Linked DNA regions of Homo sapiens: regions 1 and 3 are each linked to region 2. The links come from fine-mapping of genetic effects on gene expression. A gene starts in region 2. Each other region holds a variant in brackets. All regions are shown on one strand. Distances are from middle to middle. Region 1 holds the start of LOC101928994 (a long non-coding RNA gene). Region 2 holds the start of SUPV3L1 (Suv3 like RNA helicase). Region 3 overlaps LOC101928994 (a long non-coding RNA gene).

Region 1 (5,518 bases), 50 kb before region 2:
ATTGAGGGTCTACTACAGATATGGCAAGCTCTGCATTAGAGGTTGGACATATAATCAACGTCTTCAAATCACAGCCACTAGGTATCATTATGCTCATTTGCCAAGGCTGAGGACTCTGGCCATTTCTCAGAGCCCTCGAGGTAAGGCGCAGAGCTGAGATGTGAACTAAGTCAGCCTGACTCTGCAGCCTGAGCCCAACCCACTGGCTCATGCTGTAGGAATGTGCATGTCAACTGGAGAGGGCAAATGTGAGCACAGCCCTTGCGGTGGTATGAGAGGTGGCCTCGACGGTGGAGCCCATCCTGGGATGCCATCACTGGGAAGAGAGAGCTGGTGCTCCCAGCCTGGGGAAACTCGGATAAAGGTATGAGGGGGAAGACAGGATGTGCGGCGAGGAGCAGCCAGCCTCCTGCAGCCGATGATCCTATGGGCAGAGGGAAAACACTCCTGGAGGGGAGAGGAGACAGGGACTAAACAATGGCCCTTGAGGTGCCAAGGATGCTGATTTTTTTAGGCCAGAGCCACTCCAAAAGGAGACATTGGAACACAACCCAGCCCAGCCCAAGACAGATGCCATTAATTGAAAGGTGGGGGCTGGGCACAGTGGCTCATGCCTGTAATCCCAGCATTTTGGGAGGCCGAGACGGGCAGATCACCTGAGGTCAGCAGTTCAAGAACAGCCTGGCCAACTTGGTGATGTTGCTGCTGTTGCTGGTCTGTAGACCATAGTTAGAGTAGCAAAGGTGCAGCCAGCTCGATTTTTTGTTTTTGTGTAGACATCCGGAAATTCTTACCTTCACAGATCAGCCACAAAGGAGCTGATGGAGTCATTTATTATTTGGTGAGGGAATTCAGGGAGTTAATCCTATGCAACTTTTATTAGTATATATTATGCACCAAGTAAGAGGGTTCTCCCAGATGCTGTCTTGCTGTGTAGGAGGTAGGGTAGATCCCACAATCTATGTCCACACATTTACTGAGCATCTACTCTGTGCTGAGTAACATGTGTTAGGTGCTAGGGATGCGCAGATGAAAGACGGTGTGCTCCCTGGGAAATTGATCCGAAATACAGGCGCATAAATCAGCTATTTCCATATAGTAGGACCAGTGCTCAGATTGTGAGAGGCACAGGGAGAGATATCCAGGTCAAAGCTGGGAGACAAAGGCAGCTGGCTTTGCAGGGAGGGGACACAGAGCTGAGTGTTGAAGGGTGAGCAGGAGTCAGGCTGCCAGGCTGCCGGGAGCGGGGGTCCCAGGGAGAGGAACCACGGGCAAAGGAATGAGAAAGCATCCGCTAAGAGTGAGTGTGCTTTTGCCAAAGGAGGGCAGCTGTCACAGAAATGAGGTTGGAAGGTGGCTCTCAGGTTAAATTTGGAAGGATTTGGAAAAGCTATCCACCCCAAGGAGCTTGGGCTTTATCTGGAAGGTGAGAGGGAGCTGCAGAAAGATTTTAAGCTAGGGAGTGCCAAGATCTGAGATTCTGGGGACAAATGCCTCTGACACCAACCAGAATAGACTGAGGGTTTAACAAAAGAAGAGGCTGCTGCACTGCCATCGGACGGGAGGGGATGTGCTGAGACCTGGCCAGTGTCGGTGTGGAGGCATCCCACTCCCGGCCCGCATCGCAATCACTATCAAACACCTCACTCCACCAGTGGCTCGAGGTGCCATTTCATGGATGCCACATGGTGTGATCCCTTCTGTCTCTGACCCCAGAAAAAAGGAACCAGTGGACCCTGGGAGAGGGAGGACTTGCCCAGGCAACAGCAGTCTGTGGGGCCTCAGAGTCTTCACAGACATCAAGAAAACAGCCCCGGCCAGGCACGGTGGCTCACACCTGTGGTCCCAGCACTTTGGGAGGCCCAGGCAGGAGAATTAATCCCTTGCCAAGAGTTCAACACCAGCCTGGTCAATATGGTAAAACCCTGTCTCTACAAAACAAAAGACAAAAAAGTCAGTTGGGCGTAGTGGCATGCACCTGTAGTCCCAGCTACTTGGGAGGCTGAAGCAGGAGGATCACTTGAGCCTAGAAGGTCAAGGCTGCAGTGATCTATGATGGCTCCATTGCACTGCAGGTTGGGCAACGGAGGGAGACCTTGTTTCTAAAAAGAAAGAAAAGAGAAAACAGTGTCCTAAGCGGGGTAAATTGCTTTGGCCAATCTGCCTGCTCCAGAGGACCCTCCATGAACTGCCTTGGACCCAATGGTTCCCTTCTCGTAAGTCACTGCTGGTGCTGGTGCCTTCACTCCCTCCTTTTACCCAGTGCAGAGTCTCCCAAAGGTGCACAGTGGCTGAATGCGGAGATTCCTGGAGATTCAGAGTCCCCAGGGGGAGGGGCTGGGAAAGTGTGTATTAGGAAACACTCGAGGCTCCAGGCTGACGACCTCAGGGCTCCCGGGCTCACCCCCAAGGCCTATTTGGCCTTGGAGGCTGACTGGAGGCTAAGGCCTGGAACAGAGCCAGCAGGGGTCAAGCCAAAGAATCACAGTCACCCTCATGCTTCCCATGCCCCTTCCATGACTGGCAGAGAAGGCTCCAGTATTAACACAGCACTTTTAAGGCACTTGATCCTGTCAGAACAGACCACTGCAGCCCCCTGACCAAAAGGCTGGGTGGTAACTAAGGCTCAAACAGGTGACTCCCTCGCAGATAGGTCCTGATGGGAGTAGGCAAACTCAGGACTTCTCTGGAAGCTGCATACATTTCTGAAACGGACACCATAAGGAATTAGGAGAGTTTTGCTTGTTTTTTGTCGGTAATCATGAAATTATACCACCAGCTCACAAGAGCTAGGAGGACTTGGGACAAGATTTTAGAGATGTTAAAGCACGCCATCCACATGATCTCATTAAATCCTGACAATCATGTATGGTGCCGGGATTTACCAAGAACACCTGGCTTATTAGGGACTCTGGGCCCAGGGACCTCGGCACAACAGAATCACTGGTGAGATGCTTTGTGTGGTGAGAGGCTCTGCGGAGACGGGGATGGGGAGCTGGGCGTCTTCCCGGCTAAGGAGGAGAGAGTTTCTATGACTTAGTTAGTTTCACTTCTGAACCTTCAGAAGCAGCCAGGGCCAGGAGGACACCGCCTGTCCCAGAGCCTCCAGACCATCAAAGGCCACCTTCCCTTGCTTCTGGGGACACACCTTGTCTGTATCAGGAGGAGGGGCTGCAGTCCAGGAAGCCAGGCGGACTTAGCCCTGGTGCTCCCCACATGACTCAGCTGCTTCCTCCCAGGGGCCCCAGATGCCCTGTCAAGGACACGTCCCAGTACTCTC[G/A]TCAAGCTGTGGCAAGGACAGAGCCAAGATTTCAAAGTAGGGCTGTCTCTCTCCGAAGCTCAACGTCCTTCCAGGACAGGGCACTGTCCATCCCAAGCACCTACCCACAAGTGAGGGCACAGGGCCTTTCCCAGTGCAGTGTCCCAGGGCCTCTCAACCAGCAGAGCCAAGCTACCTTGATCCAGGCATTGCTCCAGAGAGGTCCAGAACACGACTGATCCCATCAAAGCCCCCTGAGAGCTCCCAAACCTCAGACCCTGCTCCTGCGAGAGCCCCAGTGCTCTTTCACGAGCTCGGTTTGGGCACTGGGACCCTGACATGGGAGAAACCCCTTGGTCCTTGGTGGTTCTGTCTGAACAGCCACACCACAGGGTTGTCACAGGAAATATGTGGCTCAGCGAGTCCCCAGCACCCCATGACCACAGTGGTTGCTCAGTAAATGGCAGCTTTCTCTCTTTCTTTCTTTCTTTTTCTTTGCTTTCTTTCTTTCTTCTTTCTCTTTCTTTCTTTCTCTTTCTTCTTTCTTTCCTTTCTTTCTTCTTTCTCTCTCTTTCTTTCTTTCTTTCTTCTTCCTTTCTTTCTTTCTTTTTTGATGGCGTCTCGCTCTGTCACCCAGGCTGGAGTGCAGTGGCGCAATCTCGGCTCACTGCAACCTCTGCCTTGCAGGTTCAAGTGATTCTCCTGCCTCAGCCTCCCGAGTAGCTGGGATTACAGGTGCATGCCATCACACCTGGCTAATTGTTGTATTTTTAGTAGAGGTGGAGTTTCACCATGTTGGCCAGGCTGGTCTCGAGCATCTGACCTCAAGTGATCTGCCCCCCTCGGCCTCCCAAAGTTCTGGGATTACAGGCGTGAGCCACCACTCCAGGCCAGTAGCAGCCCTTTTCCCTCTTACAGCTTCATTCAGAGGCTGAGAATGGAAGAGTTGGATGGGACCTCATAGATCCTATCTACAGATTTCTAGGCCATTGTAGGCAAAATAATGTCCCCCACCCCCAACAAAGATGCTCACATCCTAATCCCCAGATCCTGTGAATATCTGAGGGTGCAAGGCAAAGGGGAATTAAGGTTGCAGATGGGATCAAAATTGCTCATCAGCTGACCTTGAAGTTGGGAGATTATCCTGGATTATCTAAGCATGACTAACGTGATCACAGGATCTTTAAATGTTGAAAGGAGGCAGAAGGTCAGGTCAGAGAGGGACCTGAAGAGGCTACACTGCTGGCTTTGAGAACAGAAAGGGGCATGCCTCAAGGATGCAGGTGGCCTCTCGAAACTGGAAAAGTTAAGGAAACAGATTCTCCCCTCAAGCTTCCAGAAGGAACGCAGCCCTGCCGACACCTGAATTTTGGCCCAGTGAGACCCACTGCAAACTTCCGTCCACCAGAACTGTCAGAGAATATATTCGATTGTTTTCAGCCACTGTGATTGTAGTAATACATCACAGCAGCCATAGGAAACAGATACATAGGCCATTTCTCATTCTACAGCTGGGCAAACTGAGGCTAAACACTTGCCTCAGGTCACTGAGAGTGACAGAGCTGGGCCTCAGACCCAGGTTTGTTGAATTATCATTGAATGTGATTTCCACTACATCATTCTTGCTCCCATTACTCATTCCCAGTGCTACACTAGGTGCTGGGAACACTGTGGTAAGACCTTGGACCCACGGAGTGAGTGGTTAATTTGGTGGAGACTCAGAGTGGGGACACAGCAAAGTGACAAGTGCCCTGACAAGCACCCAGCCCAGCACAGGGATACTTCCTAGATGGAGGCAGGGACCACTACGCTGAGACGGAAAAGCCACGTTGATACTCACCAGGGAAGAACATGGAGATGCTCCAGGAGGAGAGGGAGCAAATGTGTGAGGCCACGATGGGCAGAGAAGCCACGGTGCCTGGGGCTGCAGAACTGCAGAACTGCAAGAGGGATTCAGCAGGACTGAAGCAGAGAGGGGCAGGGAGGGTGGGACAGCAGAGAGAGGGCTAGAGAGAGAAGCCAAGGTACAGGGGCAAACCTTAGGTACTTTAGACACCCATCAGCCAAGAGGAGCCAGGGACCCTGGCAGCGGACAACTGCACTCACCGGAACCATCGGGAATGGCCCTGACGAAGGTGGGCAACATCTTCACTGCAGCCGTGGGGTTGGTGTCCTTTGCCAGGCCCTTCTCCATCTCAGCCCGGAACCGCCTCATGATGTCCAAAAGGGTGTCATCGGAGAGCCGCATGTGATACAGGA
Region 2 (5,000 bases):
TCAATATTTGAATACAATAAGGCAAATTATCTCATCCAAATTACCTTATGCCTTCAAATAATATAAAATAATGGAAAATTGTTCTTTAATGGGTAAACTATTGTTTGAGTTTCAACTCTGCAAGATGAAAAAGTTCTCATCTATTTCGCGACAATGTCAATATACTTAACGCTAGTGAACTATGTGCTTAAAAACAATTAAGACTGGCTGGGTGCAGTGGCTCAGGTCTGTAATCTCAGGGCTTTGGGAGGCCATGGCAGGAGGATCCCTGGAGCCCAGAAGTTTGAGACCAGCCTGGGCAACATAGCAAGACCCCATCTCTACAAAAAATTAAAAAATTATCCAGGCATGGTGATGCACGCCTGTATTCCTAGCTACTTAGAAGGCTGAGCCAGGAGGATTGCTTGAGTCTGGGAGTTGGAGGTTACAGTGAGCTATGATCATACCACTATACTCCAGCTTGGGTAACAGAGCAAGACCCTGTCTCTAAAAAAAAAAAAGTAAAGAAAAAAAAACTAAAAAAAAGCTTAAAAGAGTAAATTTTATGTATTTTTATAATTTAAAAATAAATAATAGTATAATTACATTATTAAAATAACACATTCTCTGCTATGGTTTGAATGTCTTCTCCAAGACTCATATTGAAATTTAATTGCTATTTTAACAGTTGAGAGGTGGAACCTTTAAGAGGTGATTAGGACATGAGGAGTTTGCCTTTGTGAGTGGATTAATGCCATTATCACAGGAGTCAGTTATCACAGGAAAAAAGGATAAGTTCAGCCCCCTTTCTCTGTCTCACAGGCTCATTTGCCTTTCCACCTTCCACCATGTGATGATGCAGCCAAAGGCCCTCATCAGATCCCGGCTCAGAACCATGAGTCAAATACACCTCTATTGTTTATAAATTACTCAGTCTCAGGTATTATGTTATAACAGCAGAAAATAAAGACAGTCTCCCAGCACCAAGTAAAGTGAAAGGCCTTGCTTAACACTGGAAGAATATGTCAAAGAATAACATATACTGTGAGTTCCATCACATGTTTAGTGAAAGTACTGTACTTCTGCTCTGAAAAACATATTGTAGTCTATATTTTAGATTTACAATAGGAGGCACCAATGTCGCTTGTTGAAGTGAGACATTTCTCCTCCTATTCCTGGAGACAATTCTGGATAGCATTTCCTCAATCTCCCAGTTTCATATGGTCAGAGGAAACTCCCTTACCTCCCTAATCATCCCGAAACTCACCTTGAAAACATTCACATGCCTCTCTGTCAACGAATCCATCCAAACTTAAGTTTTGCTGAGCAAAGCCCGCTGCCACTAACTGATGCTACCTCTTCTTTTCTCTCTGGAGCCGGGGACACCCTACCTTGTTCTAGACCTTGTCATGTTCTACCTTGTATTACAGTTCACTTTCCATACACGTGTCCTCCCCCACGATACCGTTACGTTTCTTAAGAGGGGATCTGGATCTGAGTCTGGTTCCTCTTGGCAACCACCACACAGCCTAACAGCGTGGTATGAGTCGGCGCCTCCTCAATGATAAAGAATCCTAAAAGGAGTCTCCGCTGGCTTTTCACTGCCACATCCCATTCGGGGGTGGGAGAGAAACAAAGAATGCAAGAAAGAGCGGGCGTCCACCTAACAACTCAAAAAAGTCAAATCTTCCCAACACATGAGTGTCTAAACCATTCAGAGAGCAGGGCAGTAAAAGGGAAAAGGCCGCTTCTGGGACGAGGCGTTAAGAATTAATCAGATACAGTCCTAAGCCGTTTGAGGGGCTCACACACCAGCGAAGGAGGCAGACACTGAGAGGCACGATGACAACACTCGATGGGACCTCGGATCCCCAGGGGAAGGGGATGTAGCTTCCTCCCAACCAGCCTCGGCCCAGCAGACACCACCCTCTGCCGCCCTCAGTAGTTCCCGCACTCACTCTTGTCCAGAGGCCGGGTTAGCTCGGCCCCGACGTCGCCGTCGGCGCTGGGGCCCTGAGGTTTCACAGTCAGGGGCACGAACAAGGACGTGTTTGGTATTTTGGAGCCACCGGAGGCAGAGGAGGAGGCGGTGGCAAGGACAGAAACTTGCCCCAGAACCCCGGGAAAGGGCCCAAAGTGGGGACGAAGGGCAGAGCAGATGGCTGCCCGGTGGCCAGCCTGGCGCCCCGCCGGGAGCCGAGCCCACAATAGGGCACGGGAGAAGGACATCGAGGCCGCAGGTTCTACACTGTCTGGCGCAGCCGCGGACACGGCGGCGGACAGTGACGCGCACCTCCAGCGCCTGCTGTCCAGAAAGACCCAGGCCGAGCAGGTAAGCTGCCCGGGAAAACGCCTGACCGTTAAGGAAAACGCCGTGCCGTGAGGGTGTTCTTTCAGGGAAAAAGAAGATTAGCAGGCAAAACCACTAGAGATAATTCTCGTTCTCTTTCTCTGTTTTGTTGGTGATTGGGACCACCTTTCCCTAAAGAAGGGAAAATAATCAGGCATCTTTGGGATGTCATACATGAGCGGAGGGGGCCTGCTAGTCGTGTCACGTGATGCAAACTAGTACTTTGGTAAGCAAGTGTCCAGAAGCACGTGGGTGAGCAGTGAGAGAATGGGTGGTGGAGCAGCAACTGCGAATGCTCAGGGTACGAGTATGTCTTGCGGACTCAAACACTAAATAGCATTTCCCAAAAGTTTCTTGCATTGTTAACCGTCATTTCCTGATATGATAACGTTAGCGATAATAACTTGATATGCCCCTCAGAAATGTTGCTAAGAAATATTGTTGCACTATTAAACCCCTTGTATTACGTAAGTACTTTTGCTTTAATGTGAGCAGTTTGCGTACATCATCCTAGCAGCTATGACCACATAGTTGTGACCACATGGCAAAAATACGTGCTCTGTACCCCAGCCATAGTTTCGTTCCATTGCATTTGTTGAATACCGTGTTCTCATGTGAGGCTGCAACATGTTAAATTCACAAGTTTAACCCGGGCGTGGTGGTTCACGCCTGTAATCGCAGCACTTAGGGAGGGCGAGGCCGGTGGATCATCTGAGGTCAGGAGTTCGAGACCAGCCTGGCAAACATGGTGAAATCCCCTCTCTACTAAAAATACAAGAATCAGCCGGGCGTGGTGGTGCACACCTGTAATCCCAATTACTAGGGAGGCGGAGGCAGGAGAATCGTTTGAACCTGGGTGCCAGAGGTTGCAGTGAGCCGAGATCGGGCCACTGCTCTCCAGCCTGGGCAACAGAGTGAGACTCCGTCTAAAAAAAAAAAAAATTCACAAGTTTAGCATCTCCATCCACATCTCTTTATACTTACATCATTAAGATCTTACAACTTGAAGGAACGTGTTATGTAATATACAATACTGTATGTCTAATAGGATTCCAGTAACAATTTGCCACGTGCCTTTGATTCACAAAATAATTTTTAAACATCAGGGATACAAGGAGACAGTCCTTTGCTTTCAAAGGTTCTGATCTGGTTTTGGTGGTAAGAACAGTACACGTTAAATAATGCACTTATTACTCTAATAGACTAATGGCAGTTCAAAGAAAGGAGCAATTTGAGAGTGGTAAGGAGATTTCTGCCAGACTTAAAAGTAAAACATAGAGAAGCGGTAAGTAAATTCTAGTCAGTGGAAACGATGTAAGCAGAGGCTTAACTAAGGAAAAGACATACTGAAAAAAATTTAAGTAACAGAGTTAACGCAGACCTAATTCTATGGCTTACAAATAGTGATTATATTTTTGAGAAGAGAAATCATTCATTAGGAAGTACCTAGGATAGACTAGGATAAACACAAATATGCAGGGAGGAAAATTACAACTTTATCAACAGTTCTAGCTGAAGGTGGTAGATTCCTGTGTCTGAGTTATGATGGAGACCATGTATGTGGAATGAGAGGTTTTACAAGACTCCTTAGATAATGTAGTGAGTGACTAAATATGCTAGAAAATGTTAATAAACAATGATGTCTCGTCAGATTTGGAAACTAGGAGAATGAAGGATAAACCAAACGTTTAATACGTAACTGAGGCAAGCACTATGTTGTTCCTTTTAATCTTTTAATATGCTTGACAACAATTTAGAGGTATTATTGTCACCAGGTTAACTAACTTGCCCCAGTAAGTGGTAGAGTCAGATACAAATCTAAATCTTTTTTTTTTCTTTTTTTTGAGACAGTCTCACTCTGTTGCCCAGGCTGAAGTGCAGTGGTGCAATCATAACTCACTGCAACGTCCACCTCCCAGGCTCAAGCAATTCTCATGCCTCAGCCTCCCGAGTAGCTGGGACTACAGGCTTGCACCACAATACCTGGCTAATTTTTGTATTCTCTTTAGTTTCACCATGTTGGCCAGGCTGGTCTCAGAACTCCTGGCCTCAAGTGATCCAGCTGCCTCGGCCTCCCAAAGTGCTGGGATTACAGGTGTGAGCCACCGTGCCCAGCCAGTCTTTCTGATTTCAAAGCAAATAGGTGGGCTTTTTGGACAGGAGCAGCATATTAGGCCAGAATCAACATTTGTACGAGTCTTTTTTTTTCTTTGGAAGGGTGATCGTGAACTCCTGGGCTCAAGCAATCCTGTGTCAGCCTCCTGAGTAACTGGAACTACAGGTGCATGCCACAGCACCTGGCAGTTACTAGTCTTACAGATCTAGCCCAACCCTAGTATAGTTTTACAGAAAAAAAAAATCCTCAAAACTATTTTAACTGTAATTTTGTTTGCACCTCCTTGCAGGTAGAAAATGCAATCTGAATTTTATGATAGCACATACAGGCTTTCCCTTTCAGCCATTCATTAAGTTCTACTATAAACATTGAAATGGGAAAATTCAATATAAAATTTTTGCTTTTACAAAAAAAGATGTCATATCTATACTGGTTATGTCATATTTATAGCAGTAAGTGTAATCAGCACCTAACACATATTAGAGCCTCTATAAATGTTTTATTTTGCTTGTTGAATGGATTAATGCAGTAACTATGTAACTGGTATCCTCCTAT
Region 3 (5,450 bases), 37 kb before region 2:
CAGATCATGAGGTCAGGAGTTCGAGACCAGCCTGGCCAACATGGTGAAACCCCATCTCTACTAAAAATACAAAAAACTTAGCCAGGAGTGGTGGCAGGTGCCTGTAATCCCAGCTACTTGGGAGGCTGAGGCAGGAGAATCACTTGAACCTGGGAGGCAGAGGTTGCAGTGAGCCGAGATCGCGCCATTGCACTCCAGCCTGGGTGACAAGAGCAAAACTCCATCTCAAAAAAAGAAAAAAAAGAGAAATGTCTCAGGCCACTGAGATGTTTTATTCACTCACTTCTCACTCATCATACTTGACATGAGAAGGACCCAGAAAGCACCCAATACATGGGTACAATCAACCTTGCACTCTTCCCACAGTCACTGGCTGGCTAATGAAACCAATAACAACAGCGTTAACAACAGCGGCTAACATGGATGGAGCATTTACCAATCCCATTTTGTTTTTATTACTCTTGTTATTATTATTTTTTAGACAGGGTCTCATTCATCCCCCAGGCTGGAATGCAGTCGTGGAATCATGACTCGCTGCAACATCAGCCTTCTGGGCTCAGGTGATCCTCCCATCTCAATCCCCAGGGTAGCTGGGGCTACAGGCACGTGGCACCATGCCCAGCTAATTTTTGTATTTTTGTAGAGATAGGGTTTTGCCATGTTGCCCTGGCTGGTCTTGAATTCCTGGGCTCAAGCGATTTACCCACCTCAGCCTCCCAAAGTGTTGGAATTACAGGCATGAGCCACTGCTCCCGGCCCACTCTTATTTTATAGATGAAAAAATTGAGGCCCAGAAAGGTTACGTGATCACAAAGCCATAAACAGGACAGCAAGGGGTCAATCCTGGAAGTTTGATTCCAGGGCCCAGCTATAATACATGGCATTGGCTCTCCAGCCCTGCTTTCTCCACGCAATAGATACTCAATAGATACGCAATTGATAACTATTAGTAGCAGCATTCTGTTGGGATGTTAAGAATTTGTTTTTCTTTTTCTTTTTTTTGAGACAGAGTCTCACTCTGTTGCCCAGGCTGGAGTACAGTGGCTCAATCTCAACTCACTGCAACCTCCACCTCCTGGGTTAAAGCAATTCTCCTGCCTCAGCCTCCTGAGTAGCTGGAATTCAGTGCTCTCTACCCATTGCCGTGTGGACGAGCCATCAGGTCTCACTTAAGCCCACAATGCAGAGGAGGCTCGGTTAAAATTACTCCAGATGCTTTATTCAGATTGATATAAGCATATTAAAACTGTCTCCCAGATTGAGGATCCCCATCCTTTTCAGTCAATTTACCCTCAGACTATGACTTTTAGCTTGCTCCTTTATTACACAAGCAAACAAAGATGAACCTTTAGTTCCCCAAACCATTCAGTGCCCCAAACCAGGTGGAATTGTTGGTATTCTGAAATGCGCATCCTAGGCCCTAGCCCCCATTGGCTGAGGATAACATCCTGGGAAGGCCATCTGCCCGTAAGTGATGACATTATTTATCCTAATTCCCCCACTAGTTGATTTATTTCAGAAACAGAGTCTCACTACATCTTGTCTTGCCCAGGCTGGATTTGAACTCCATCCAGTCTTGCCCAGGCTGGATTCGAACTCCTGGGCTCAAGTGATCCTCTGGCTTCAGCCTCCTGAGTAGCTAGGACTACAGGCTTGCATCACCACACCCAGCATTTAATTCCCCCATTTAAAAAGTAACCTGGGCTGGGCGCAGTGGCTCACACCTGTAATCCCAGCACTTTGGGAGGCTGAGGTGGGAGGTGGGCAGATTGCCTGAGGTCAGGAGTTCGAGACCAGCCTTGCCAACATGGTGAAACCCTGTCTCTACTAAAAATGCAAAAATTACCTGGGCATGGTGGCGGGTGCCTGCAATCCCAGCTACTCAGGAGACAGAGGTAGGAGAACTGTTTAAACCCAGGAGGTGGAGGTTGCAGTGAGCCAATATTGCACCACTGCACTCCAGCCTGGGCAACAGAGTGAGACTCCATTTCAAAAAAAAAAAAAAATGTAACCTGGGCAGTGCAGTATGAACCAACTGTCATTGATTTGTTCGACATAGGGATAAGAGGTTACAGTAGCCAGTGGTCAAAAGATGCAAACCATAACCAAAGATCTCTGTAATCTCACGGTTGCTTGTGTGAGTCAGATAGGCAGCCTTTGGAATTTTAATCAGGCAAATGACACCAGAGGATTTTCATCTATTGCATCATTCCCTTTTTAATCTGAGCACATTAGCGTCTACATTCCAGGCCTGAGTAAGGTGACTAAACCAGGAAGTTTAATGATTACAGAGATCACATGCATTTGGAGTCATCTAGCTCAGCCCTCTCACTTTATAGAATCAAGACAAAATAATTAGGTTATTTTATCATTCCTCATCTGATTACTCCAATTCAAGTCTTGGGATTTTTCACCCTTACTACAGTTCTATTGGCTATTCAAGGATATCTAGGTTTAAATCTTATAAGTAGTTGGATTTTGCTTAAGAACACCCATTTGAGGGC[C/T]GACACTGACAAGTGACATTTTAGTTAAAGCGTATCACCCATCTGGCCCAAATCTTCCATGTAAGAAGGGAAACTCTCCCATCTGTAGACACATCTCCGTTTCATAGAGCTCCACTTTAATCTACACGGTCCGTTTTGGCAAGGCTCAAAGATAATTTCTGTTTCTCTTTAAGTACTGAGTATGGTGGGAGGACTAGAAGTCCAGCAAAATTTACCTATTTATTTAGCAAACACTTCCCCATGGGGTTTACTAGATGTCTTACGATATTAATTCCACAGTAACTGTCATTCTCCCTATTTTACAGATGGAGAAACCAAGGCACAGAGCCCAACTGGGACGCAGTGAAATCGAGATTTGAACGCAGGCAGTCTAGCTGCAGAGTTCTTGCTTGCCCGCTGTGCTACACTGGCTAGGCTGGAAACAAGGCACGGGGAGACTTGGGGCCTCAGCTGGAAAAATGGCCCTAAGCTCTTTCTAACACAGTGGAAAGTGCACAGGCCCTGGGGTCCTACTTTGGCTTTTCTTAAACTGCAGGTAAAGGTCCAAGTCTATATTCATATCTGTAAAAGCTTCATAGCTATGTCAGTGGTCACAGTGAGAAAGAAAGCAAATTATCACACAAGGAAAGGCATGTGGTCTACAGTGGGCACACTAGAAGCATCTCCTGAAGCTCAGCCTTTCCCTGGCTGGGGACCCCTCTTCGCTCACCCAACTTGGTCTCTTGGGATAAGAAAATGTGTGCAGACCTTTCAGTCCACTCAGTAAGGCATGATCCTAAACCATTAGAAAGTACCTGTTCCATGTACTGGAATTAAAGGAACAGTTGGGAATTTTATGGAAATTCTATTCCTGTTACTAAAGAAAACAGCTCTTGAATTCTGCCCTGTATTCTTTTTAATGGTAAGTCCAAAGTTAAGTCGTCATAACATAAATCAGTGTGACCTGCTGGTATTCCACTTGCTGCAAAAGAATCAGAAACTGTGTGGGAGAGCAAACTTCCATAATAAGAAAACCAATGTAGAGACTTCCAAACGCTGCCAGTGGTTACAGTCACAATGGTGTCTCTATCGGAGCAGCCACAAATGAAGCAGAAATGCTAACCTCAGCAAGTTTCAAAAGAATGCTGCTAATCATTTTTACAGGTTTATTCTGAACCGAAGACAAGGAATGCTCAGGAAGAAATTCTGACATGATTTCTAAATCACAACTGTACATTAAGGGTCATATTTGCAAAACACCTATCAAGGAAAGAAAAGCCATACAAGAAAATGCAGTTCATGTGACTTTTAACATTTTTCAGAATAATTACAATCTCAATTGCACAAAATAACCAACTTTTCAAAGCAAATGAGACTTCTGGTTAAACACGGCATTAACCTACAAGGACAAAAAGAAAGGAAACAGTGACTGATAAGAGATCTTAACATAATTCTGGAAGACAGGAAGCTCACGGAAGTAATTGCTTAGTAGAGCAAACACTGAAACCTGAGTGCCCGCAGAGGGTGACTCGGGTGAGAAAGGAGCTGTGACGTTTGTAAAACTCTAAAATGCTCAGGAATCAGAGGTCTGGGGCAAGACATAGAGCCAAAAACAAGAGATTGGTTAAAAAGCTATATAAAAAAGCTTGGCCAGGCACGGTGGCTCACCCCTGTAATCCCAGCATTTTGGGAGGCCAAGGCAGGTGGATCATTTGAGGTCAGGAGTTCGAGACCAGCCTGGCCCAGGTGGTACCCCCATCCCTACTAAAAATACAAAAAAAAATTAGCCAGGCATGGTGGTAGACACCTCTAATCCCAGCTACCCAGGAGACTGAAGCACAAGAATAGCTTGAACCTGGGGAACAGATTTTGCAATGAGCTGAGATTGCACCACTGCACTCAAGCTTGGGCGACAGACCCAGACTCCATCTCAGCGGAAAAAAAAAAAACCCCAAAAAAACCCAAACCCACAGGTATGGAAAAGGGAAAACTATAGAGACAGTAAACAAGTCAGTAGTGGCCAGGGATTTGGAAAGGTGGGGGATGCTGAATAAGTGAAACGCAAGGGCGTTTTTAGGGCAGTGAAACTATTCTGTATGACACTGTAACGGCAAATACATGACACACTTTCAAAACCCATAGAATTTGACAGCACAAAGAATGAACTTTAATGTACATACATTCAAAAAAACATTTAGGAGGTCAGCGACGCAACACAGACTGTGACATGAGTCTAACTGTGTTGCAAGTGTGTGAAATAGCCTCACTGAAGGGGAAGGGGAGGGAAAATATGCTGACCTAAGAAACTTTGGAAATTAATAGAGTAAGACTACAAGTAAAAGGAAGTGTATGTAGCACTGTATTCTGATTGATAAAGTTGCTTCCTGCAAGAGCACGCTTAACAATTCTGAAACCACTACACAAGAATACTGGAATTGAACAATTAAGTACATGGATGGTGGATGGCGGGAGGGAGGTTTCTTGCTGCTGGAGTGAGAGGCTTCAAGCAGGGGAGAAGGCTAGAATGATCCATGTCACTGGATTAGAATTGAGGACATCAGTATACACTCATGTTTAGCTTGATATTCATATAGATGACTATACATATATGTTTATATAAAGATTTGAAGACGTGTATATAGCTTAGTATACACGTGCATATGTCCTTGCTTTGTCAGCTGAGAAACACTAGAAGTAATGACACCCAGTAGCAACAAGCACACCTAGTGCCCAGATCAAAGAACCAGGTCTATACAAGATGGTCCTGGCGCATCTTGTAGTGCCAGAAAGGAAGGAACTAATCAACAAAACAAAAACCAAATGATACGGATGTGTCAAAGGAACACAGGAGCCAACTGAAAGTGAAAAAGTTCCTAATAACCAAAGCTAGAAAACATTGATAGGAGTGTTAAAAAAAAGAAAGAAAGAAAAAATTGGGCAAGATAAAGTATGATTGGATTATAACCC

Evidence for each region. PIP is the estimated chance that this variant, and not a neighbour inherited with it, causes the effect. A credible set is the group of variants that fine-mapping cannot tell apart.
Region 1: its variant is the best candidate, but not a certain one, in a credible set for the expression of SUPV3L1 in subcutaneous fat (GTEx, PIP 0.87).
Region 3: its variant is the best candidate, but not a certain one, in a credible set for the expression of SUPV3L1 in whole blood (INTERVAL, PIP 0.86).

Annotation. Positions count from the first base shown.
Region 1 is chr10:69,227,217-69,232,734 of GRCh38, reverse strand. It overlaps HKDC1 (hexokinase domain containing 1), which reads right to left. Exons shown (of 18, transcript NM_025130.4): 2 at 5,366-5,518. LOC101928994 (a long non-coding RNA gene) reads left to right here and starts at 245. Exons shown (of 5, transcript NR_120648.1): 1 at 245-364. RefSeq lists enhancers at 1-88, 1-901, 2,898-2,947, 2,988-3,047, 3,347-3,516. The variant G/A (reference allele first, on the strand shown) is at 3,281.
Region 2 is chr10:69,177,500-69,182,499 of GRCh38, reverse strand. It overlaps SUPV3L1 (Suv3 like RNA helicase), which reads right to left and starts at 2,266. Exons shown (of 15, transcript NM_003171.5): 1 at 1,938-2,266. The coding sequence starts at 2,208. RefSeq lists an enhancer at 2,182-2,551.
Region 3 is chr10:69,214,132-69,219,581 of GRCh38, reverse strand. It overlaps LOC101928994 (a long non-coding RNA gene), which reads left to right. Exons shown (of 5, transcript NR_120648.1): 5 at 2,810-4,249. Among named protein-coding and RNA genes, the nearest start is that of HKDC1, 3.5 kb to the left of the region's middle. RefSeq lists an enhancer at 1,224-1,393. The variant C/T (reference allele first, on the strand shown) is at 2,505.